7 linked regions of the Homo sapiens genome follow. The protein of the gene in region 6 interacts with the protein of the main gene of each other region in a biochemical or structural test. Each region holds a gene or a part of one and is shown on either strand. Other genes may lie near its edges.

Region 1 (3,500 bases), on a different chromosome or scaffold from region 6:
AACAAAATGTTAGTTAGTAAAAGAATTAAGTTGTAAAAACATAATTTCAGCAAAAATCAAACTTACTCTTCAACTGATGTATATGGTATTAATCGTCCATTCCAAAAACATTCAAAAATAGGCCTTTTCCCTCTAGCTGCTTTCTCAAGTATGAAACAATCATCTTCATCATCTTCATCTTTTAATTCTAGATCAAAAGGGCAAATGGAACAAAATGTTTATTGCTAAAATGTGAGAAATAATGAAACAAACACATAAATGTTTCAAATTGCATTCTATAAAACCTAAAGGTAGTTTTATACTGTTTGCCCACAAAAAGGTAGGTTTACAAAGTGGTTCCACATTACGAATGCTGTCTGTCATTTAGAAGTCAATAATTACTTATATATGAACCAATGTACTAGCTGCTGGGCCTGTCATCTTTAAAACCTATTCATGAGGCTAAAAGAGTCTTACATCCAAAAAGATTATCCCCTATAACAAAATCCCTCCTTCCTACAAATATAGGAGCTTAAATCCCGTATCTAAAACAGTTTCACAATTTTATCAGAACTAGTATGTTCACATGAAAGTCATCTGAGAAATCTATGACATCTAATAGCAGCGAGTTTACCTAGTTTGAACAAATTAGTGAATGATGCTAAAATTAAGTTTACTTTTTAGAAATTATTTTCAGATTCAAGTAAGCATGAAAAATGTACACAGAACTGTAAGACATGTTACTATGCATCAAGAGCATTAATTTGCACAATTGTCTATAATCTTATGTTTATTAGCAACACACTCTCGTGTATCCAGATAAATTAGGATTAAACAATGTGATCCTGACATATTAACACCTCAGCTACCCTGGAATTAGTTTACCCACCTAAAACAAAACCTTCTCCCTAAAAGCCCTCACAAGAAGTCCCTTATATAAAAGCTGCTTTCAATCAAACAAAATCACTTTGCTCTTAGAGGAGAATCCCTCTGATTGATCACTCAACTTACTTGCTCTTCTTTTTAAGGCAGCATTTGAAAAAAATTATATCTTTTTGTCTATTAGCACACAAAAATTGGAAACAGCAAATTTAAGAGGTCAGAGATGGCCAGGCACAGGGGCTTACGCCTGTAATCCTAGCACTTTGGGAAGCTGAGGTGGGAGGATTACCTGAGCTCAGAAGTTTGAGACTACCCTTGGCAACATGACAAAACCTTGTCTCTAATAAAATACAAAAAATTAGCCTGGCATGGTGGTGGGCACCTGTAGTCCCAGTTACTCAGGAGGCTGATCCATGAGAATTGCTTGAACCTGGGAGGCAGAGACTGCAGTGAGCCTACATTGTGTCACTGCACTCCAGCGTGTGTGGCAACGCAAGACTTTTGTCTCCAAAAAATAAAAAACAAAACCAAAAAGGCCAGTGGAGCCACTGAGTAACAATATGTACTGGGCAGGAGCACTTAATAAATAGTGTTGAGCACTATTCTGAGAAGTTGCCCCAGTTTTTAAATTTGATCTTCACAACACCCCTATGAGGTGTGAACTACCCATTTCCCAGGTAAGGAAACTAAGGCAGGGAGTAGTTTGTCCAACAGAAAGTGGCAAAGATGGGATTCGAATCAGGATCTCTGGTTGCAGGCCCTAGAAAACCAAGAATGTACTAAGGAAGTATTCTGAATGAAAAAGTTTAATATTGTTAACCTATAAATTCAATGCAATCCCAATAATCTCACTAGAATTACTTCAAGTGAATGTACAAAGCTGATTCCAAAATTATCTAGAAGAGCAAAAGTATTCTCAAAAAGGAACAATAGTGAAAATGTTTTTTCCCAAAGATACCAAATTACAAGATAAAGCTACAAGACAGTATCATTACTCATATTAAAAAAAAATAAAATAGTACTTTATAGTAAAGAATCTAGACCTATGTACTTATGGGAACTTTGTATTATACAAGTTCTAACTCTTGGGTAAATTATAACATTCAATAACTGGTGCTAAGAAACTGAATATGAATACCACATAGAAAATAATTGTTAAATCCCTATCTCTCTACTGGGGGGGGAAAAAAAGGTGGGGGCCAGGTGTGGTGGCTCACACCTGTAATCCTAGTACTTTGGGAGGCCAAGGCAGGAGGATTGTTTCAGGCCAGGATCTTAAGACCAGCCTGGGCAACACGGCAAGACCCCATCACTCAAAAATTTAAATAAATAAATAAAACCCCACCTTGCTCTACATACAAAAAAGAAAAACACAGATGCATTGACCATAAAATGACAACAAAAACAAAAAAGCTACAGATTTATATAATTTTGAGATGTAAAAAGCCTTTCTACAGTAAGACAAAATCAGAAAGCATAAAGAAAAAGTTAGTAAATATGACTGCATAAAGTGTAAAACTGCAACAAGGATAAAGAGAAGACAAGGGAACATATAAAGGATTAATACGCATACATATCTAAAAGTTTGGTTTCGTAACAGAACTAAAAGAAGAGTTCATTAAAGATTTATTCATCTAGAAATGAATGTACACAAAAATCAGGAATTACAAAAATTACAAATACCTAACAATCTAAGACTTGCATAAGAAAAAATTTAATATTTATCTAACCTGAATAACCCAACCGATAATCATTTAGAAAAACAAATCACTGTCCTAAATTACAACTTCATATTTTATAACTAAGATAACAGATTAACATACTTGATGGAAAGCATGGATCATCAGGGTAAGTTTCTCTATCATATAAGAATGGATGATAACGGATAATCCCTTCCACTACACCATCTCCTTCAACATGAGCTTTGAATTCAAAACTATCAGCTGCTGTGTTTACATACAACGTCTGCATGTCGTCTTGTATTTCCCTTAGGTTGACAATCTTAGGTACCTTCCCTTTTTCAAACATAGAAATCTAAAATAAAAAGGAAACAAAAATAATTAAATTCTATGGTAACTTTACTTTTGTTCTCAGCTATGATTCAACAACAGAATAAGTAAAAATTATGTTTATTTGTACAAGTAACAATCTGGCTTAATGAAATACATATATTTACATATGAGTTAAACAGCTTTAAGTAGCATCTCAATAAGGAACATACTACTAAAAAATATAAAGTAAGCAAAGAAACAGCAAATCAGAGCTGAAGGACAGAAAAGTCATGAGTACATTTAATTCGAGGTTTCTTGCTAGAGGTAGGAAGTGGGACAACATCGTATGTGAAATTCTAACGTGTGGGTTAGAGGATTGAGAATCCAATACTCAAATGCTCTGTGCTGCTAAACCTTGTCACCACGATATAACTTCTACAAACAAAAGGAAAGCTACATTATCTCCCTTTTCCTCCATGCTTCAAGAGATGATTGATGTTCAGTAACAATGCATAGCTCCACAGAAGAGAGACAAAAAAAGATAAACCAAGCCTACAGTAAATAAAGGTTTGAGAAAAATACATCTAGGAATAATCTCTTTAGTTGGATATCAAACAATGAAAGTAGTTTGGTAAAAAACAAGGAGAG
Region 2 (3,500 bases), on a different chromosome or scaffold from region 6:
AAACACAGAAAAATCTTTTAATAGTAAAGAACAAAATTCTAATCACATTTTAATCTTGAGATCTTTGTCTCAAATGTAGTTATTCATAGCTTTGTATTTTGTTTGTTAAATTGCAGTTTTAAAAAATTAGGGATTTACATGAAATGCAGATAATGTGAAGTTAGGTTTTGTTAAGAGTATCCTTTTATTTTTGTTTTTTAAAATACTATACGTGAATATGTTGCTAAATTTTTTGCACTTAGGAAGTTTGTTTGCTGTTTTTTATTTAACCTATTAATATATTTCATGTTTTTGAACTATATGTATGTTCCTAAGGTAAACTCTGTTGAGTTTGGCAAATTACTTTTTAAAATAATCTGTTCACTAATTTTATATAGGCCTTTTCACTCTAAAGATGCTGAGAATGACCAAAACCTATACCCTGTTTGTTTGTTTTTTATATATATATAGACCATCTCTCATATTACTAAGATTGAATGACAAATCAGGCCACTTTAAACGGTTTTGAAAGTATGAAAAGTATAGCTTTTTATCTGTTTGATGCTCTATTATGCTAAAGTCAATCTCTTTATTTATTGTTTGAATTTTCCATTAATAGATGTTCCCTTCGGAGAGGCAGCTCCTTCACATTCTTAACACCTGGCCCCAACTGGGACTTCACTTTGGTGAGTAGATACCTGGGTTTTTATTTCGAGACATTAGATAGAATTAATTCCCTGGTTTCTTTCAGTCTGTTACACAGATCAGTGGTCCTTACTTCTGAGGGTCTTGAGGAACAGAATTCCTGTAACCATCTTTGGCAGCCTAATTTAGTCCTTTTCTGCTAACAAGCTGTAATAACTTTTTGTTTCAAGTAAATATAAAACATATTTTGCAAAGTACTCACATCTATTAATCTTTAACTCTATGCCATCCTTTCTCTTATTCCTTTCAATGTTAAATCTGATAATATATTATGAAACATGAAATTATTTTTATACATCCTCTACTGCCTTTTTTTCTTGGTTGAAAATATAAAAATGCTTGATTGCACATTGTGTATATATATTTAATATATATAATGAATGATTTTCTGCTATTAATCATCTCAGCATAGAGGGACTCTATTATTTTTATAGCAGGACTTTACAGAGGCATTTAATTTTGTGTGAAGTGATAACAGAAAATTGATTCTTTTTGTACTTAAAACTTATTAGCTCATAATACATATATAAAGTACGTACAAATAGATCATGATTCTTATGCTTATCTAGGAAAAATAGCAAAAGTGATTCAAAATATAATTTCATATAAATGCATAAGTATGATCATATATGTGCTTTTTTCCCCTTAGTACAGTCTAATATTGCTAGGCAGTTTCCTCCCCACTTCTTCTCCTTCTCCATATTAGTCCATTCCCAGGCTCTGCTCTAACCATGTCAACAGTACCATATGTATCCTTCTATATTTTGCTCATATCATTAATATACACAAAGAGGCTCACAGATAAATACACAAGCAGGATTTATGGTTAGTTGGCCTTTCAAACCTGGGATCATATTATTCATAATTTTCTGTATCTTCTGGGTATGACCTTGGGATCAGTAAAATATTTCTTGAGTTCCAACACCTCCATTCTGATATATATTGTTCTTTCATGTCTTAGATCATTTTCCTAATGTCTTTTAGCTCAATTCAAAACAGTGTGTTATAATTTTGCTCTGCTGCTTTGAGCATTTCCTCCTGGTGTGCAGTCATTTCCTAGGGGATAGATTCTGTTCCTTGTTTTCTTTTTTCATAGAATGATATTGTGTAGAATTTGACTTTGAGAATTTTCTGTTCATTTTAGTGTGAATTTAGTTTTCAACTTGTACACAAAATCTTGGTTCAGATAGCTTTTCTGACTTCACAACCCTCCTTCGTGTTGTTTTTTATGGTAGCTTGCTTTCTGAGACTGCCTGGCTCTGTTACTTTCTCCACTTCTATCTGGACTTTGCCGTTCCTTTTTTTTTTTTTTTTTTTTTTTTTTTTTCTTCTCTATTGGCCCTATCTTGTTCAATTTTGATTCAATTCCCAGCAGTTTCTCCTCACTGTGGGGCCAGGAAGTTGACGGGAACCCTAACTAGTCACTTTTTAAGAGTTACCAAGAAGTAAGCTGTGTAGGTAACCTGAAAAGTTATTTTGAGATGTGGGAAAATGAAGTGTTACCCGTGGGTGCTTATTCACTATTAATTAAGTACCAGAAATGGTAGATATGTACACAGTTTTGCCACTACTGGTGCCAGAAGGGCTGAATGAAAGTGATAAATGGTAAGTGGAAAGTACTCCAGGGACATGGCTGTTCACCTTCTAGTTAATCAATCCTGCCTCAGGCAACAAATCTTAATTACTTTGGGCCATGAGAAAAGGATTTTTTTTTTCTAGTGAAGACCTTGCCCCCAAGATAAATAATGTGTTCCTTTTCAAAAAAAAAAAACTAGCTGATTTTATATTTAAAAAATTTTTACTTTTTCTCTAACAAGTACAGACAGCCCTTGATTTACATAAGAGTTCTGTTCTGAAAAACTTAAGTAGTATTTTAATAGGGTAGCCACTTCACAGCAGTGATGACTTAGTCAGGGGAGACTGTTCAGATAGTATCTATTCCAAAGACAATTCATGAGCGTCTCTCCTCAAGATAATTTTCTTTGTTTTTTTTTTTTTTTGAGAGGAAATCTTGCTCTGTCACCCAGGCTGGAGTGCAGTGGCGCAATCTCGGCTCACTGCAGCCTCTGCCTCCCAGGTTCAAACGATTCTCCTGCCTCAGCCTCTTGAGTAGCTGGGACTACAGGTGTGTGTCACCACGCGCAGCTAATTTTTTTTTTTTTTTTGGATTTTTAGTAGAGACAGGGTTTCGCCACGTTGGCCAGGCTGGTCTCGAACTCCTGACCTCAGACGATCCGCCCTCCTCAGCCTCCTAAAGTGCTGAAATTACAGACGTGAGCCACCGCGCCTGGCCTCAAAGTAATTTTCTTGTGACTATAGCCAAAGGCTTAACTTTTTTAAATTGATTTTTCTAGTTTTATAGAGTCTTTGTTTTGTGAGGTAATATGCATTCCTTTTATATGAGAATGAAATCTCTATTTTTCTTTTAGAAAAGAAAACGCAGAGAGAAAGATGATGATGTTGTAAGCCTTAGCAGCCTTGATCTGAAGGTAAGCCCTGCTGCCCTGTTAAAGAAAAGCATTTAAAAATATGCAGATAGCATTTTATTTCTGTGCTGCAAGAATAACAAATGCTGGTTTGGGTTTTTTTGTTTTTTTGTTTTTTGCATTTTGTAAGTGCAAAAGTGAATAATATTAGTTCATAGACACCGTCTTTTTTGCTATTCTACTTCTTTGTTAAGAATGAGGGAGAAACCACTCTCAAAATGTTAGGCTATAACTACTGATCACAAACACAAATGCTAAGGAGACAGGCTGTAATCTGTGCGAAGGAACGAGGTAAGAGAGGGCCGGTGGTGAAAAGGAGAGCCCCAGGTT
Region 3 (3,500 bases), on a different chromosome or scaffold from region 6:
GAGATGAGGGTAGACTGACCAGGCTACTTAGACTTCTCCACCGTCTCCCTCATCCCACATTATTTTCTTCCCTGGGTCCATGACCCCCAACCCTCCATCCTCAAGGAAACTTGAGCCTGCCTTTGCCTTGCTTTGAACCCTGAGCAACGGGCTCCCCATGGGTCATGGCTGTGACTGCAAACTGTGTTTGAAGAACAACCAAGTTTGGGAGGTGCTGTGTGCTCTGCGACCTTCTTTGAGATCCACACTTCTCAGCAGCTTATTAATAACTCAGGAAACATCTACAATTTGAAAAGAAAGAAAAAGCAGCAGAAGCAAGCAATCAAAGACACCTGTTGGACTCTGTGTAACCTGGCATTCTCCAACTCATTGCACCACTGAGCTTTTATTCTTCCTAGGTGATATTATTAACATTATGCAGATACAAGTGTTCCCCTGAAGGCAGTAGGAAGTTTAGGAAATTGTTCTATAAAGGTGGGACTTGGGAGCAGTTTCAGACTTTCCATATTCTTCAGCAGTCCCTCCCCAAGGCCTCCAAATAAACCTGCATTCTAAGAAAAGACAGAGGCTTGCTCTGCAGCTTCAAAGTAAATGCCCAAACTCAAAACACCCCCACCCCATGAGACTGCTGCCCCCTCACTCTCAAGGTCCTGAGTGATCTGACCCCTCCTGAGCAGCCTTACACTGTACTTCCCCACCCCTCTGGAGTCCCAGCAGAAGTGAGGGGTGACTGCCCCTCGCACAGCCAACACCTTGGCATTCTCTGCGTTACCCTCTCCCACTTCAGTCCTTTGTGTGGCCAAGTCCTGCTCCTCCTGCAGACTCACCCCAGTCCTCAATCGCCAGGAGGGAATGGGAGCAGGGTAGGCTGAGGAGCAGTCATCGGGCCATTGAAAAACACAAACCACACAACCTGCCCCAAGCACAGTTAATAGCCTCATTTTTCCCCCTGTATAGTGTACATACAGCAACCAGCTCTGCCCTGTTTTCTGGGACTTCCCTGGTTTTAGAATGAATAATCTCCAAGCAGTGTTCTTGCAACTGTTGCAAGGACCATGTTAAATTGCTTTAAATGTTGAGACCTGCACCTGGCACCTAGTAAGCGATTGTTAGTTGTTTTAAAGGAAGAGGAAATAACAGTCTCTTCTAACGCTGATTGTGTTGGACAAACTGTCCTAATAAATGCTGTCTTCACCTGGAAAATTTCTGAGGGCAGTTCTGGGTATTTGAGCTTCTATAACCATCCATGCCTACTTAAGCAAGGTGTTATTCTTTCTTTCTGAACTTTGAGGTGCTTGTTGATTGGAAAAGTCTAGAACCCCACCACTAAATCCATTCATTTATATATGCATGCATTTACTCATGCATTCAGTGAATATTTATTGAGTACCTACTATGTGCTAGATACTAAACTGGAGGCTGCACTTGTTCACTCTATATAATAAAGTCTAGCACCCACTTGAACTTGCTACGGCCCTTGCTTCAGGTCTTGCTACTGAGAAACACCGTGAATGCTGGATCCTATACCCTGCCTGGTTCCTGGCTCCCGAGACCCAGATCCTGAGCCAGTGTTCACTGGGTCCCTGGGCTGCCTCAGTGCCTTGTATTATCTTCTTCCCCACCTCCAAGCTCCTTGGTGGCCCCAGACACCCCTAGCTTGGCCCATCTGTGTCCTGCTGTGGACCCCTAGCTGGGAGTCTGTTTTCCCCTCACCCATTATGACTCCTGACTCCAGCAGGCAGTTACTTATAAGAAAGAGGCATCTGGCAGCTGCACTGGGGAGAATGACCTCATAGCACTATAATTAAAGTGATTATCTGAGTGGAAATGACTATTATGAAGCATCCTTCTCTGTTTTATTATGTAGAGCCATTGTAATGGGAACGTGGGATTTCCTATGTTAACACTGATATTTCTGTGATCCAATAAATCCTTCTTCACAATCATCTCCCAGAGGAGAGAAGGCATTCTGTGCAGCAGCTCTAGGAAACATCCCGGTCCCCAATGTCCTAGACATCCTACCCTCTTTGGCCAGGTCATTAAGCTGTGAAAAAACACACTCAGTAACTTGGATAGTGTCATAGAGTGGTCCTTCCCACAGCAGAGTCAATGTAAAGACCTATGGGAGGGCTTCAGGAATGACTCCTCAGACAGGAGCCCTGGGAAGGGCTTCTCCAAGAGAGAAAGTGCACTCCAGAGGCAAGAGCACTGGCCAAGTCCTGACCTGATATCGGATGAGCTGTGTGATCAAGGGCACATCACGTCTCTGAACCTTGGTGTTCTTCCTGTGAGATGGGCCATTAACACCAGGCACCTCATAGGATGGATGTGAAGACTGCATGATAGAGTAGATAGAAGGCAGTTAAAGCAACACCTGGTGCTATGGTTTGGATGTGGTTTGACCCTGCAAAAGCTCATGTTGAAATCTGATTCCCAAGGTGGCAGTGATGGGAGGTGGGACCTAGTGGGAGATATTTGAGTCACAGGGGCAGATCCCTCATGCATACATTAATACCCCCTTGAGGGAGGGAGGGAGTTCTAGCTGTCGTGAGACTGGATTAGTCACTGGAGAGCAGGTTGTTATAAAAGCAAATTCAGCTTTCTAAACTCTCTTGCTTTCTATATCACCTTGTGGTCTCTTTGCGAATGTCAGATCCCCTTCTGCTTTTTGCCATGAGTGGGAGTAGTATGAGGCCCTCACCAGATGCAGCTGCCCAATTTGGACTTCCCAGCCACTAGAACTGTGAGCCAAATAAACCTCTCTTCTTTATAAATTACCCAAGTATTCAGCTATAGCAACACAAAATGGACTGAGACACCTGGTGTGAGCATCAGACACTCCACAAACATTCTTTCTTAAACACAACAAGAGTCCCTGCCTTCATACACAGCACAGATATCTGTTGAGCATCTACCACGTGCAGCACCACTCTCAGTGCAGGCATTAGGCAGATAACTCAAATGGGCCTGGAGTGACCTGGTGGTTCAGGTTCAAACAGTTCCATCCCAGTCAGTGACCAAGCAGAACCTGGTTCCTGGTCTGTGCATCCCTGCTAGGAGCAGTGGGTGCGCCGCACTGCTCCTTTCCACTTGGACCCATTCTCAGAGCTGCTCACACCTGAGCAAAGGATGCAGCTTGGGCCAAGGTGCTGCTAGGCATGGAGAATCTTCCTCTCTGACCTCAGATTCTTGTCCTCTGTTCACAGAGCCTGATCCAGGGATGTCTGGATGGCCGGATGGCAGAATGGAGACCTCCACCCCCACCATAATGGACATTGTCGTCATTGCAGGTGAGCTCTCATCACAGAGCCCTTCAAGCAGCCAGGGTGGGGGGCCTTGGTGAAAACATCCAGGGGAGAACTGACCTAAGGACTTGGGCAGTGGTGGCTGTGGCCATTTTTTCTCTCCCTCAGAGGTGGTTTTGAATGTGGAATGGAGGAGTCTAGCCCTGGGTAAATATATATATACATGCATACATCGTACGTATCTATGTATGTATT
Region 4 (3,500 bases), on a different chromosome or scaffold from region 6:
TGATTCTGAACAAGCGGTGCAGCCCTTCATTTTCTCTAAGAAGTGGTTCCTTCATTAAGTTTATGGGTCCCTCCATGGGCAGGGCCCTGTGGGTACTATGCAGGGTTAACCTCCCCTGCCTACAAAGGGAGCAGTCTGGGGAGAACAGTTTGCCCACGTTGAGGGCGGCTGCACAGGCAAGAGGGTGGGGCCGGAGCCCACTCACTAGGGCTTTCCCTCAAGGATAACAATATGGCGCTTTTTCTTTCTGAAAATATCACATCAGAGATGCCATTCATTCGTGCACGACAGGGTGGTGGGCATGGACCTGTGCTGTTTACAGACAGCGTTCCCCGTCCCTCTCTGCAGAGTGTGAACCCCAAGGTGCATCTGCCGTGGTGGGATTGTAAGACCGGGGCTTGTACCCAGTGCTTTAGCACATGCCAAATGCCGGCTCTAGGATGCATTACTCCAGAGCAAAGAGAACCAGCTGTTTTCCTATAAGTGCTGGGAAGTGGTAGTTTCCCCTGAATGTACTTCGGTATTTAAACCCAGCATGAACTGGGTGGTGTGTTCACACCCACAGCTTGTTGGGCTTCCCTGATTCTTCATTCTGAAGCAATTTCATGAATTAGCAACTGATACCTCCTTGGGAAAAGCCAAAGGAAATGCATTATGGATTCGGGGTAAAAGAAAGCACAGTCTGCTAGAAAACAAAGTCATCACCGCCCATTCATTCAGCGTACTTCAGTGTGCCCATGTCCTTTCCAAGTCCTTGCCTGGACTGCCCCTGGCGAGCGCAGCGCCGGTGCTTGGTCTGTGCGCAGAAGGTTTGAGGCCCGGACCTCTGAGAACCTCTGGTCTCCCAACAGTCCCCTCTTTCCTCAGATCATGGCAGTTGCCGGCCTAGATTCAAGTAAAGCCCAGAAGTACTCACCGAGTCACTCGACCCGGTCGTGGGCCACCCCTCCAGCAACCCCTCCCTACCGGGACTGGACACCGTGCTACACCCCCCTGATCCAAGTGGAGCAGTCAGAGGCCCTGGACCAGGTGAACGGCAGCCTGCCGTCCCTGCACCGCAGCTCCTGGTACACAGACGAGCCCGACATCTCCTACCGGACTTTCACACCAGCCAGCCTGACTGTCCCCAGCAGCTTCCGGAACAAAAACAGCGACAAGCAGAGGAGTGCGGACAGCTTGGTGGAGGCAGTGAGTACGGTTCTTGGCCGTGGTGGGCAGGAAGCACCAGGAGCAGCAGAGGTGCAACTGTAACAGCAGGAAGGGCAGTGGTGGGAGGGCGGCCAGGCTGTGAGCTAGGCTGCCTCAATCAGACACTTCTGAGCAGCAGGAATGTACCTGAAGCATGAGTAAAAACTGGTCACCACCACTGGCTGCAGTGGCTTACGTCTGTAATCTCAGCACTTTGGGAGGCCGAGGCGGGTGGATCACCTGAGGTCAGCGGCTCAAAGACCAGCCTTGCCAACATGGTGAAACCCCGTCTCTACTAAAAATACAAAAATTAGCCGGGCGTGGTGGTGTATGCCTGTAATCCCAGCTACTCAGGAGGCTGCAGCAGGAGAACTGCTTGAACCCGGGAGGTGGAGGCTGCAGTGAGCCGAGATCACACCACTGCACTCCAGCCTGGGCCACAGAGCGAGACTCTTGTCTCAAAAAAAAAAAAAAAAAAAAAAAAAAAACAAAAACTGGTCACCACCGTCAATTCTCATAAATGAGCTGTGCTGGCATTATGGGTGCTGTTCCGGCATATGTTTCTAGTTTATACTAAATGTCTTTCCCCAGTGGGTTTCACTCTTGTTGGGCCATGTGTAGTTTTTTAGCTCCAGGACATTTTCAAAGCCATTTACACTAGTTATTATGTATGAGGTCTAGAAAACATGATTGAGCTGCATCCCCAAAGCACACGGTGCAGTTAAGTTAGCACTGGAGTTGATTTTTCTGTCGTCCCCCTGCCCTGCAAAGCCTTATAACACCCCCATGCCATCCATCCCTCTTTTCTGTACAGGTCCTGATATCCGAAGGCTTGGGACGCTATGCAAGGGACCCAAAATTTGTGTCAGCAACAAAACACGAAATCGCTGATGCCTGTGACCTCACCATCGACGAGATGGAGAGTGCAGCCAGCACCCTGCTTAATGGGAACGTGCGTCCCCGAGCCAACGGGGATGTGGGCCCCCTCTCACACCGGCAGGACTATGAGCTACAGGACTTTGGTCCTGGCTACAGCGACGAAGAGCCAGACCCTGGGAGGGATGAGGAGGACCTGGCGGATGAAATGATATGCATCACCACCTTGTAGCCCCCAGCGAGGGGCAGACTGGCTCTGGCCTCAGGTGGGGCGCAGGAGAGCCAGGGGAAAAGTGCCTCATAGTTAGGAAAGTTTAGGCACTAGTTGGGAGTAATATTCAATTAATTAGACTTTTGTATAAGAGATGTCATGCCTCAAGAAAGCCATAAACCTGGTAGGAACAGGTCCCAAGCGGTTGAGCCTGGCAGAGTACCATGCGCTCGGCCCCAGCTGCAGGAAACAGCAGGCCCCGCCCTCTCACAGAGGATGGGTGAGGAGGCCAGACCTGCCCTGCCCCATTGTCCAGATGGGCACTGCTGTGGAGTCTGCTTCTCCCATGTACCAGGGCACCAGGCCCACCCAACTGAAGGCATGGCGGCGGGGTGCAGGGGAAAGTTAAAGGTGATGACGATCATCACACCTGTGTCGTTACCTCAGCCATCGGTCTAGCATATCAGTCACTGGGCCCAACATATCCATTTTTAAACCCTTTCCCCCAAATACACTGCGTCCTGGTTCCTGTTTAGCTGTTCTGAAATACGGTGTGTAAGTAAGTCAGAACCCAGCTACCAGTGATTATTGCGAGGGCAATGGGACCTCATAAATAAGGTTTTCTGTGATGTGACGCCAGTTTACATAAGAGAATATCACTCCGATGGTCGGTTTCTGACTGTCACGCTAAGGGCAACTGTAAACTGGAATAATAATGCACTCGCAACCAGGTAAACTTAGATACACTAGTTTGTTTAAAATTATAGATTTACTGTACATGACTTGTAATATACTATAATTTGTATTTGTAAAGAGATGGTCTATATTTTGTAATTACTGTATTGTATTTGAACTGCAGCAATATCCATGGGTCCTAATAATTGTAGTTCCCCACTAAAATCTAGAAATTATTAGTATTTTTACTCGGGCTATCCAGAAGTAGAAGAAATAGAGCCAATTCTCATTTATTCAGCGAAAATCCTCTGGGGTTAAAATTTTAAGTTTGAAAGAACTTGACACTACAGAAATTTTTCTAAAATATTTTGAGTCACTATAAACCTATCATCTTTCCACAAGATATACCAGATGACTATTTGCAGTCTTTTCTTTGGGCAAGAGTTCCATGATTTTGATACTGTACCTTTGGATCCACCATGGGTTGCAACTGTCTTTGGTTTTGTTTGTTTGACTTGAACCACCCTCTGGTAAGTAAGTAAGTGAATTA
Region 5 (3,700 bases), on a different chromosome or scaffold from region 6:
ATTTTTCATAATGAAAAGTTGGGTACATTAATTAATTATACCTAGTCTCTATACATGAAAAAAAATATAGTAGAAGTATGGTTTACAGTGCTACAATTTAAGCACATTAATTGTGATCCATGGTTATTTACTCTACAAAAATTACTTAGTGCTAAATTACTAAAACTTGCTAGCATTTCCCTTTTAAAAATCACACTGGATTATTTTATCGTTTCTGCTGGTTTTTGTTCATGTTAACAGCTCATTTCCAAATATATGTTAATTCAGTAGAAGTTCATAAAGAACTTAAATGCTATAATGCTAACAAACCCCTGTATCAGAGGAACCAGCCCCCAATATTTCAGCATAGGTTCTATTTTCCATAAGTGTTGGCCAGCTGAGAAATAAAAAGAGTACAAAGAGAGGAATTTTACAGCTGGGCCGCTGGGGGTGACATCACATATCGGTAGGACTGTGATGCCCACCTGAGCCTTAAAGCCAGCAAGTTTTTATTAAGGGTTTCAAAAGGGGAGGGGGTGTAAGAACAGGGAGTAGGTACAAAGATCACATGCTTCAAAGGGCAAAAAGGAGAACAAAGATCACAAGGCAAAGGGCAAAAACAAACATCACAAGACAAAGAGCAAAAGCAGAATGACTGAAAAGGGTCTATGTTCAGCGGTGCATGTATTGTCTTGATAAACATCTTAAACAACAGAAAACAGGGTTCTAGAGCAGAGAACTGGTCTGACCTCAAATTTACCAGGGCGGGGTTTCCCAATCCTAGTAAGCCTGAGGGTACTGCAGGAGGCCAGGGTGTATTTCAGTCCTTATCTCAACCGCATAAGGCAGACTCTCCCAGTGCGACTGTTTATAGACCTCCCCCTAGGAACGCATTCCTTTCCCAGGGTCTTAATTATTAATATTCCTTGCTAGGAAAAGACTTCAGCAATATCTTCCCTACTTGCACATCCATTTATAGGCTCTCTGCAAGAAGAAAAATATGGCTGTATTCTGCCCGATCCCACAAGCAGTCAGACCTTATGGTTGTCTTCTCTTGTTCCCTGAAAATCGCTGTTACTCTGTTCTATTTCAAGGTGCACTGATTTCATATTGTTCAAACACACATGTTTTATAATCAATTTGTACAGTTAACACAGTAGTGGTCCTGAGGGACATACATCCTCAGCTTACAAAGATAACAGGATTAAGAGATTAAGGTAAGAGATGCATAAGAAATTATAAAAGTATTAATTTTGGGAACTGATAAATGTCCATATTAAAATGAAATATTCACAATTTATGTTCAGAGATTGAAGTAAAGACAGGCATAAGAAATTATAAAAGTATTAATTTGGGGAACTGATAAATGTCCATATCAAAATGAAATCTTCACAATTTATATTCCTCTGCTGTGGCTCCAGCTGGTCCCTCCATTCAGGGTCCTTGACTTCCTGCAACACCCCTAAGGTCTGAACACAGACAAAAAATGATCCTGGAGACAGATATTGTTGTTACCTTAGAGTTGGGTTTTCATGAATGTATTTGATCAAAACCAGCTATACTATTAAATAATAACAGAACACCCTCTTCTAACTAGTTACATAATCTTTCCTAAAGACTTTCTCCTTTGTTTTTTCAGTCCACATTCCTGTAAATGTGGCAGGAATAAGAAAACCCCAGTTTCCCGCTCTCACCTTTGAGGCCCCCGACAAAGACAGAAAGAAGGAGCTATCCAGGAGCTGATCCTCCTTGCAAAGCTGTGCCTTGCAGAGATGCACGTGTGCATTTCAGCTACATCATGCCGCGCTGTTGTAATACTGTATAAAGACCTCAATCTATCCAGAGTATTTTTATATAATGTTGGATGAGTTAGGATTTGTAATGCTGTTGAAGTTTCTGGGAACACATAATATGTAGCCAGTTTAACAAAGAAGCTGTCAGGTGCACAGCCCTTCCTGGGTTTTTTTCTTGTGTTCCCTGTGGTCTCTGACCCATTAGGCTAAAGAGAGACAAGAGAAGCCCCCAACCTGATTCTCATGACAGCTCCATCAAGAATGTGGGATGTGCCGACCAAGGATTTGAGAAAGTTGTACAGAAATGTGTTCATCAAATCTGGTCAAGGGACTAAGCTCCTAGCTGACCATTCATTCTGAAGATTGCATGGAGGATGAACATCTGGGAATCCTGTTAATGAGAAGGCTGAATCACAGGCACCTGGGCCAAAGGGTGTGAGCATTCATGTTCTCTGCTCACCTTGGTTTCCGCACACCTTCGCAATGTGAACAGGTCAGGAGTCCCTCCCGTCCACCTCCTCTGTAACAGCTGGGGTTCCAGGCATGGTTTAGGCCCTGTTCCAGCAATAAGAACCAATCTGCTGTACAATCTGAGGACTTGGCTCTGTTATTTACAAAATGATGCTGTGGTTCTGAGATTATTTGGGACATTTTTGGCTCTCCTTTAGTGGACACCTAGAGCCACAGATTCCCTTCTTTACTAAACAAATCCCATGGATTCTGATTTCTGGGTCTTAGGATTTTAAAAGTGAAGGGATATTTTTCTTATATTTGTGAGTTCAGTTCCGATGGTGCCCGTGGTCAAAAGCGAAAAACATGGACAATTCCTATTCATTCTTAGCACTTTGACATGTCTTGGGGAAAAGCTTACATTTTAATTTAAAAGAAAGATCAATTATATCCATGCTTAACAGGATCAGCAGGAGCTTTATAAATGACTTTACAGAGACTAATAAGGGATTTGATCTTTCTTTTTTTGTTATCGAGGCTTTTGAAATGTGGAACTTGTGTGTTCTGCTTTATATGTTATATTCAATATCTTTTCAGATGCAGTCTATATTTTATGCTGAGTTTTAAAAATGAAATACTTTATGCAAACAGGCAAAATTGGTACCAAAGGGAAACATTAACCATGAGGAAGAGCATTTTTCTAAGGAGAACAGGTGACAATATACACATGTGCGCTAATCGTAAAATGAGCATCTTAGTCTTTAAAACACATCAGAATTGAATACGAATAATCTATTTGTCGATGAAATAAACACAACTCTTTGAGGATTTGAGACTACATTCACCCTTTATTCACAGTCACTTGCAGTTTTGCTTTTCTCTGCATTTCTCTGCTGTAAGATGACTGTTGCATTGTTGAATTGTATTTTGAGTGGATATTTTTGTTTGGTAACAATTAAAATTTTAAATCGTAAAAAATGTACATTTGCCCTTTCTCTTCCTTCTAAACATGTGTCTCTCCCACAGGTCATTCTCCTGTGACACGTGTACTGCAGAGTGTTTCAAAACCGGGCAGGCAATTAGCAATGGGAAATAAGTGGTCCACCTTCAATATTTGCTTGTTGTTCATTTACATGCTCTTGGCACCAATCCTAGACTCACGTGTGCCCCAGAATAACATTCAGACTCTCAGCTGGTCTTGTGTTACACATCCATGGACCGGTTCACTCCATCATATACAGCTCTCTGCTCCGTGTCCCCTGGGCTCAAGTCAAGCAGTCGGTGACAGATTTCATTCCCAATAACAGAATCGGTTTGCATGACTCCCCATACATGTTGCAGCTTTGAAAACATTCATCTCAGAGTTAGGTATAAAGACATAAAAATGTGTGTCAAGCCCTCGTTAGCTGATGAGGTAAATGCATGGACAACTTCCTAGGACTTCTCGGCTCTGCCCTCTGTGACCTTGCAGCCTGCTC
Region 6 (3,500 bases):
TCTTAGTCAATAAGAAAACCTTTTACTGTGTTAGTAGAGGAGAGGTGTGAATAGGAGGAGTTTGTCCTTAAATAAAAACTATCAGCTCTCCTAAACAGTGATTCTAGGGGGAAAAAAAGTAGAACTTTATTTCTGACAAATCTGACAAATCTTTATACCTTTAGCAGACTTTCGGAAAGATATTCTCCAAGCAGATGATTAAATAAACATTTTTAAGCTCTGACATTTGTATTATGTTTTTTAGTTTTAAAAGTGCTTTTCGACATGTGAACTCTTAGTTTCCAGTGGTGAGGAAACAGACTCAGATTGGTTAAGATAACTAAATCATTTAGTGAGCATGCATAAGGTGCTTGCCCTTGTGCTAAGCACATCAGCATAATGAGGTGACACTGTTGTTGTTCTGCATTGTAGAGAGAGACACTGAGGCTGAGAGGGGCAAGTAGCTTACAAGACTTAGAGCTGGAAGAGAAACCTGGCCTGCTGCTCCTCAGCCTGAGCTTTTTCCCATGGCCTCATTGCACTGCCAATAAGTGACAGATTAGATTTGAATACAGCTCTTCTGATTTTGTTTTTTGACTGAATATATGTTTGCACTTAGGATAAAGAAGAGAACTGTCTAATATGAATTTACTTAATGACTTGCTTTCTTCCTCATCTGCTTTGTATGCCTTCTAGAACTTTAGACCATATAGAGTTATTTGTTCATATGAGAATCATTGAGATCCTGGACTGAGTTCTTAAAAATCCCTTTGAAAGTTCTTAAAGTCTATCATTTACTGTTCTTGACCTTGGTATATGTACTTCTCAAGATGTTCACTGTCTCGGTTACATTGCCCTTTGTCTTTCTGATTAACTACTTCTAACCTGCTGTTCCCTAATCATGTAATCGTTTAGCTTATTATATTGTGTTAAAGGACTCATGAGCCAGAAGGGGGCTGCCTTTTGAGTATACTCTGTGAGGACATGGGATTTGAAATATCCATTTTAACTGTTGGGACTGCTCAGATCCTCAGTAATCACAGCAGTTAGTAATTATTGACCTTTTAGTCAAGATAAGACTTACATATTCTACTTCCTTCATAACATTAATATTTAAAAAGGTGTTCCGTTTGTCATTCATTATCTGTTAGGATCCCAGAACCTCAAAAACCTCAACTGAAGCCACCTGAAGATATTGTTCGGTCCAATCATTATGACCCTGAAGAAGATGAAGAATATTATCGAAAACAGCTGTCATACTTTGACCGAAGAAGTTTTGAGAATAAGCCTCCTGCACACATTGCCGCCAGCCATCTCTCCGAGCCTGCAAAGCCAGCGCATTCTCAGAATCAATCAAATTTTTCTAGTTATTCTTCAAAGTAAGCTATTTCACCTGGCTTTTAAAAATAGGATGCAGCATATTAATCCCGTGCAGTTCAATATATTTTGAAGAAAAATAATTTAAGTGTAATATATGATTTCTGTAGGCTCTAGTGGTTCAGCATTGTACATACTTTTTAGTTCTGGGATGTGTGTTTTGTTTTTAAAGTCTGCTATTAGATGTACATAGTTTTTGCATTCACAAAGATGCTAACATCACAGGGTTTTGACGGAAGACAGTGTCAACCACAAGGACCCTCATCGATAGGTAATCATCAGTCTTCACTTCTGTACACACACCTAATGATGTCATGCTGGTTCTTTTTCTTTTCTGTTTTTATTTTTTAAATATAAATACAGATGTGAGGAGGATCCTGTTTGAGGGAAATACTGAAGAGGTTTTTTGTTTTTTGTTTTTGTAAGATTTCTGATCCAGTTTTACAGGTGAGGGAAAATGACAGGGCAGAGCTGGGACTGAACCCCAAGTTTCTTGACTCCCAGTCATCTTTTCCCTGTGCTTGCTGCTCCCCTCCGTTTACTCATCCCTGGGTTTCGTGTTGGTTTGTTCTCCTTTCTTGTGCCTGCGTGGGTTTGTGTCTCCTACTGGTTCTGTGTCTCTGGTTGAACCCTGACTGATAAGAGAATTTGGTACTGATAGTTGTGTCTAAGCCCACACGGGCACACAGGTAGATTCATACCTCAATAGAACAAAACCCACAAGAACAAAAACAGATGTGGATTTGTCAAAAGAAATTCATTTACACAGTTACAGGGGCTGGCTAAGCAAGTCCTATTTCAGAGGGCAGTTGGTCAGGAAGGGAAGATTTTGAGCTACTGGGGAGTGTGAGATCAGGGAAGGCCTAAATTCTCATTCAGAGGGCTCTGCTGATTAGGCCAGGCCCTCCCAAGACCATCTCCCCTCAACTGACTTGGGGACATTACACCTGAAAAATCCCTTCATGGCAGTACCTAGCCAGATTGACATATTAGAATTCATCACACATAGTATTGTGTCTATATTAAAAGCACCTAGATTTTTCCTTACTTAGTTGCGTGGGCTTGGGATTATCTTGGGAAATGACCTATTTGTCATTTACTATTGAGTGTAAATTGTTTTAGAACATACTTTAAAACCACTAACATTAAAACCTAATTTTAATTACCACTGCTTTTTTCTAAGACATCCTTTGTAGTGAAGACTTTTTTCACTGTCCTATATTTAAGGCTTTATGTTTACAGAAGAAAGCAGTTTATGAGAATCCAAATGCAAACTGAGAGTGCTGCAGTGGGGGTTGTATTAAATGCAAAACGTGTCTTGTACTAGTGTTGTGAACCACCCCTTAGCACAACACTAGAAAGGGGTTGTGGCATCTAGATGGTGTCTGGACTGAAGTGAGCTAGCACAATATAAACCCACACAGGTGCACAGCTGGGTTCATACCTCAACAGAACAAAACCCACAAGAACAAAAACAGATGTGGATTTGTCATTAGGAATTCATTTACATTTACAGTGTTACAGGAATTCATTTACACAGTTATCACAGTAACATCTAAATGGTGACTAGCCTAAAGTGAGCTAGGCACTGAGCCATAGGAGCTCACCTTTGGTAAGGCAGAAGGGTGTACCCTTTAGTTATTATTTTTACTAAACACCGTTAAACACATTCATTCCTGTCAGAAGAAGGCTCAGGTGTTTAGTTTAAAGATATCTCTTATTTATCGTTTTACATATTTGGTAAATAGAATACAACCTTAAAAAGATTATATGGCCAGGCGCAGTGGCTCGTGCCTGTAATCCCAGCACTTTGGGAGACCAAGGCAGGCTGATCATGAGGTCAGGAGATCGAGACCATCCTGGCTAACACGATGAAACCCCATCTCTACTAAAAATACAAAAAAATCAGCGGGGCGTGGTGGCGGGCTCCTATAGTCCCAGCTACTCGGGAGACTGAGGCAGGAGAATGGCGTGAACCCGGGAGACAGAGCTTGCAGTGAGCCGAGATCGTGCCACTGGACTCCAGCTTGGGCAACAGAGTGAGACTCTGTCTCAAAAAAAAAAAAAAAAAAAAAGGCTGGGCGCAGTGGCTCACGCCTGTACTCCCAGCACTTTGGGAGGCCGAGGTGGGTGGATCATGAGGT
Region 7 (3,500 bases), on a different chromosome or scaffold from region 6:
CCAAATAGGTGGTTAAGAAATGTTTGCGGGATAATTGGCTGCACAAAATGCAGCGTTCAGCTGCAGATTCATCAGTGGCCCTTGCCCACATCTCCCGCATCCCAAGCTCTTGCATTGTCTCTGAGTCCTGGCCCTGCCCTGAATCGCTGGAGCAGCAGCAAGCACAGACCCTCAGCTAAGAGGGTCCCCCAGCTAAGGTTGGCCCCTGGGCCACCTCCAACCATCCCCACCCCCTTCCCCGACATATATCACCACCACCCTCTCTTCTTTTGTAGCCTTATTCCCCTTGGGAATAAGCCACCTCACACTTCCGAGGACCAGGGTGTAGGGTGGCACCTCGTCCACCAATTGTCATGGCCAGAAGGCTATGTATGTGCCTCCACTCAGGGGGAAGAGAATTCTAAGGAGCGGCTGAGAGAGGCTTGCTATCTGGCCCTGGATTGGGGTGCAGGGACCTCCCAGAGCCAGGCCCCTAGGGATGTGTGGACTGACCTGGGGTCTACGCTGTCTGATTTCTTAACCTTCCAGCTACCTGACCCTGATCAGAGTAGAAGGGACGGCAGTTAAGCAAGCCGGTGAGGAGGGCACTCTGTAATTTTTGAACATACTGGCTGTGTGTGAGGCTGAAGCCACAGCTCCTTCTTACCTGAAATTCATGGAGCTCTGCCTGAGGACTGAGTCCCTTTGGTCTCCATCCAGCCAGGTTCCCATGCCAACCTACTCCCAACACACTGATTGGAACCACAGAGCCCTCCAGCTGGGGTAGCCTGCCTTTGCATGACCTTTATCTCACAGACCATTCCAGAGAGGAGAAACTGAGGCACAGATGCAAGGACTTGCAGTAGATCATACAACCAGCTCTTCTCCCAATATGTACGTGGTTCACTCCCTCACTTCCTTCAGCTCTCCCCATGAATGCCACTTTCTCAAAGAGGCCTACCGGGGCTGCTCTGCTTAGAAACCCCTCCCCCCCAGCACACTCTTTTCCTCCTACTCGCCTTTATTTTCTCCATAGCACTCGTCACCTGATATGTGTTCATTGGTTTGTTTGTTTGTCTGTCTCTTCCCCGTTAGACTGTAAGTTCCATGAGGGCAGGGACTTCCATTGTGCTGTAGCCACAGCACCTAGAATAGCACTTAGCTCAAAGTAGCTGTTCCATAAATATAGGTTGAATGAATGAGTTAGTAAGTGAGTAGGTGTCAGGGCTGGCTTAGAACTTGCCTGCCAGCCTGTGCTCTGTAAATGCAAGGCTACCTGATTCAAGAAAGAGGTGGCAGGTGGGGGCCGGCCTAGGTCCTGGGGGCATATGGGCAGGAAGGAGCAGGGATTCCTGGTAGGAAGCAGGAGGGGGCCATGTCTCCTGTGCTGTCCCCACCCAAAGGATCCTTCAGCTGAGGATTGGGGCTTGTGTTTGTTAGAACTTGATTTGGCTGCTCATAGCAACAAAAAAGAGTAGTGGATTAAATAAGACAGGCATCAGTTATATCTCTCTCATATCATAGAACTTCAGAGGGGTGGTATAGTGGTTCTGCCATCATTCACACGTGGCCTCGTGGTCCAAGGTGGCTGCTGGAGTTCCAGCCATCAGGAAAAAGGAAGGAACAAGAAGCATGTGGCTCCTCTTTAGAGTGTGCCTCCCAGAAACCACATGTGACACTTCTAGTCACATTTTGTTGAACAGAACTTAGCATGTGGTCACACTAGCTGAAAGGCAGGCAGGAAAGAGAACTTAGGGAAGAGTAATTTTTATTTCAGGCACCCAAGTGCCTACCCAAAAAACAGTGGTTCAGTTACAAGGAGGAAGCAGAGAGTGGATATTTGGAGTAGGTGACTGGCAAATGCTACTGCAGAACTGGTCCCTGCAAACCTTGGACGTCTCTGTAGCTGCCCTCTGTCCTCACCTTGCCGGTCAGATCAGCTTCGCCTCTGCACACAGCTCTCAGGAAACACAGCTCTCAGGAAGCCTGGTCCCACTTAGTCCTCCAGTTATGTGGCTGTAGCCTTCTGGTCCTGAGGGGCAGTTTCTGGTAATGCACAAAGAAACCTGGCTCCTTCCTAATTGGGTCTTGAGCTGCAACAGGGATCCGAGGTGTCCCAGGACCCCCATAAGCTGGGCCTTGGGCAGGGTAGGAGGGGAAGGACCTGGGTTCCCCCACTGGCCTGTGGATAGGGAAGAAGTGTTTCTGCTCCCCATCTCTCCCTCTCACCTCAGAGCAGGTGAGTGCAGGGCCAAGGAAATACTGTCTTAGGGGTTTGGCTATGAGCTCTCAGTGACAGCAGCAGCCGGGGGCCAGTGACTTTGAAACCTGCGGGTGGTATTCCGTGGAGCTGCCTTGGGGGCCACTGAGGGCTTGGGGTGCATACCTGGAGAGGAAAATTAAGAGGAGGCCGATTTGGGGGGAGTTTTACGTCCATCCTCTTCACGAAGGCCTACTTTTAACTGTTCCGTATGATAGGTCTCTACGTAAGAATTCCTTTGACAAAAAATTTTGCTGTGATGGTGAAGAGAAGAAAAATGGAAATCTCTGCTGATGCCCTAGACTCTGCAGTTAAGAGGCTTGGATTTTAGCCACAGCTTCGACACTTGTTAGCCTTGTGATCTCAGACTTGTTCCTTGACCTGGGCTTCTCCAGCGGGAAAATAGGTATTGTGCCCTCCTCCATAGCAAGGGCTAAATAGGATCATGTAGGTGGTGCCTCTGATGTGCAGAAAGCATCCACACGTGTTGATTTTTTTTTTTTTTTTTTTTTTTTGAGACGGAGTTTCACTCTTGTTTGTCCAGGCTGGAGTGCAATGGCGCAATCTTGGGTCACCACTACCTCCGCCTCCCGGGTTCAAGTGATTCTCCTGCCCCAGCCTCTGGGGTAGCTGGAATTACAGGCATGCACCACCACGCCCACCTAAGTTTGTATTTTTAGTAGAGACGGGGTTTCTCCTTGTTGGTCAGGCTGGTCTTGAACTCCCAACCTCAGGTGATCCGCCTAATCAGCCTCCCAAAGTGATAGGATTACAGATGTGAGCCACCCGCACCTGGCATGTTGATTTTATTTCTTGTATTGGCGTCAGCCCTAGCCCAGTGTGAGTCAACAGACCCTGTTACCCCACCCCCAACGCCATGCTAGAGCAGCATCCTCTGCGACCTCACAGGGCCAGGTTTTCTTCTTCAAGGCCCTTCCCCATTACTCAGGCTGGGGGCCTCAGTGCGGGGAGGCAGGGTTAGTTGGAGACCGCAGTTTTAGATGAAGGTGGCCAGGGTGGGCTTAGCTAAGAAGCCACTGAGATGGCGCCCCCTGCCTTCCTATTCCTGCCTGGTGCTCCTCAGCTCACCCCTAGGGGGCACTGCCCTTCACTTTGGGGCTTTGAGTCAAAACAGACTTTTTTTTTTTTTTTTTTTTTTTTTTTGAGACAGGGCCTCACTGTGTTGCCCAGGCTGGAGTGCAGTGGCACGATCTCGACTCACTGCAACCTCCGCCTCAGGAGTTCAAGCGATCCTCTCACC

The links.
Region 1: the proteins of TJP1 (region 6) and SMCHD1 interact in a test that uses a peptide from one of them, tested with the Homo sapiens proteins (one large-scale study listed by IntAct).
Region 2: the proteins of TJP1 (region 6) and NET1 interact in a test that uses a peptide from one of them, tested with the Homo sapiens proteins (one large-scale study listed by IntAct).
Region 3: the proteins of TJP1 (region 6) and GYPC interact in a test that uses a peptide from one of them, tested with the Homo sapiens proteins (one large-scale study listed by IntAct).
Region 4: the proteins of TJP1 (region 6) and CACNA1D interact in a test that uses a peptide from one of them, tested with the Homo sapiens proteins (one large-scale study listed by IntAct).
Region 5: the proteins of TJP1 (region 6) and SLC22A3 interact in a test that uses a peptide from one of them, tested with the Homo sapiens proteins (one large-scale study listed by IntAct).
Region 7: the proteins of TJP1 (region 6) and PODXL interact in a test that uses a peptide from one of them, tested with the Homo sapiens proteins (one large-scale study listed by IntAct).

The regions. Positions count from the first base shown.
Region 1 is NC_000018.10:2,697,226-2,700,725, reverse strand, and holds part of SMCHD1 (structural maintenance of chromosomes flexible hinge domain-containing protein 1), read right to left. Parts: intron 2,896-3,500; coding exon 2,685-2,895; intron 188-2,684; coding exon 67-187; intron 1-66. UniProt on the Homo sapiens protein: Non-canonical member of the structural maintenance of chromosomes (SMC) protein family that plays a key role in epigenetic silencing by regulating chromatin architecture.
Region 2 is NC_000010.11:5,426,057-5,429,556, forward strand, and holds part of NET1 (neuroepithelial cell-transforming gene 1 protein), read left to right. Parts: intron 1-598; coding exon 599-665; intron 666-3,113; coding exon 3,114-3,173; intron 3,174-3,500. UniProt on the Homo sapiens protein: Acts as a guanine nucleotide exchange factor (GEF) for RhoA GTPase. May be involved in activation of the SAPK/JNK pathway Stimulates genotoxic stress-induced RHOB activity in breast cancer cells leading to their cell death.
Region 3 is NC_000002.12:126,690,658-126,694,157, forward strand, and holds part of GYPC (glycophorin-C), read left to right. Parts: intron 1-3,206; coding exon 3,207-3,290; intron 3,291-3,500. UniProt on the Homo sapiens protein: This protein is a minor sialoglycoprotein in human erythrocyte membranes. The blood group Gerbich antigens and receptors for Plasmodium falciparum merozoites are most likely located within the extracellular domain.
Region 4 is NC_000003.12:53,809,111-53,812,610, forward strand, and holds part of CACNA1D (voltage-dependent L-type calcium channel subunit alpha-1D), read left to right. Parts: intron 1-867; coding exon 868-1,188; intron 1,189-2,002; coding exon 2,003-2,296; 3' UTR 2,297-3,500. UniProt on the Homo sapiens protein: Voltage-sensitive calcium channels (VSCC) mediate the entry of calcium ions into excitable cells and are also involved in a variety of calcium-dependent processes, including muscle contraction, hormone or neurotransmitter release, gene expression, cell motility, cell division and cell death.
Region 5 is NC_000006.12:160,449,378-160,453,077, forward strand, and holds the end of SLC22A3 (solute carrier family 22 member 3), read left to right. Parts: intron 1-1,618; coding exon 1,619-1,679; 3' UTR 1,680-3,200; downstream 3,201-3,700.
Region 6 is NC_000015.10:29,714,469-29,717,968, reverse strand, and holds part of TJP1 (tight junction protein 1), read left to right. Parts: intron 1-1,130; coding exon 1,131-1,358; intron 1,359-3,500. UniProt on the Homo sapiens protein: TJP1, TJP2, and TJP3 are closely related scaffolding proteins that link tight junction (TJ) transmembrane proteins such as claudins, junctional adhesion molecules, and occludin to the actin cytoskeleton.
Region 7 is NC_000007.14:131,546,629-131,550,128, reverse strand, and holds part of PODXL (podocalyxin isoform 1 precursor), read left to right. Parts: intron 1-3,500. UniProt on the Homo sapiens protein: Involved in the regulation of both adhesion and cell morphology and cancer progression. Functions as an anti-adhesive molecule that maintains an open filtration pathway between neighboring foot processes in the podocyte by charge repulsion.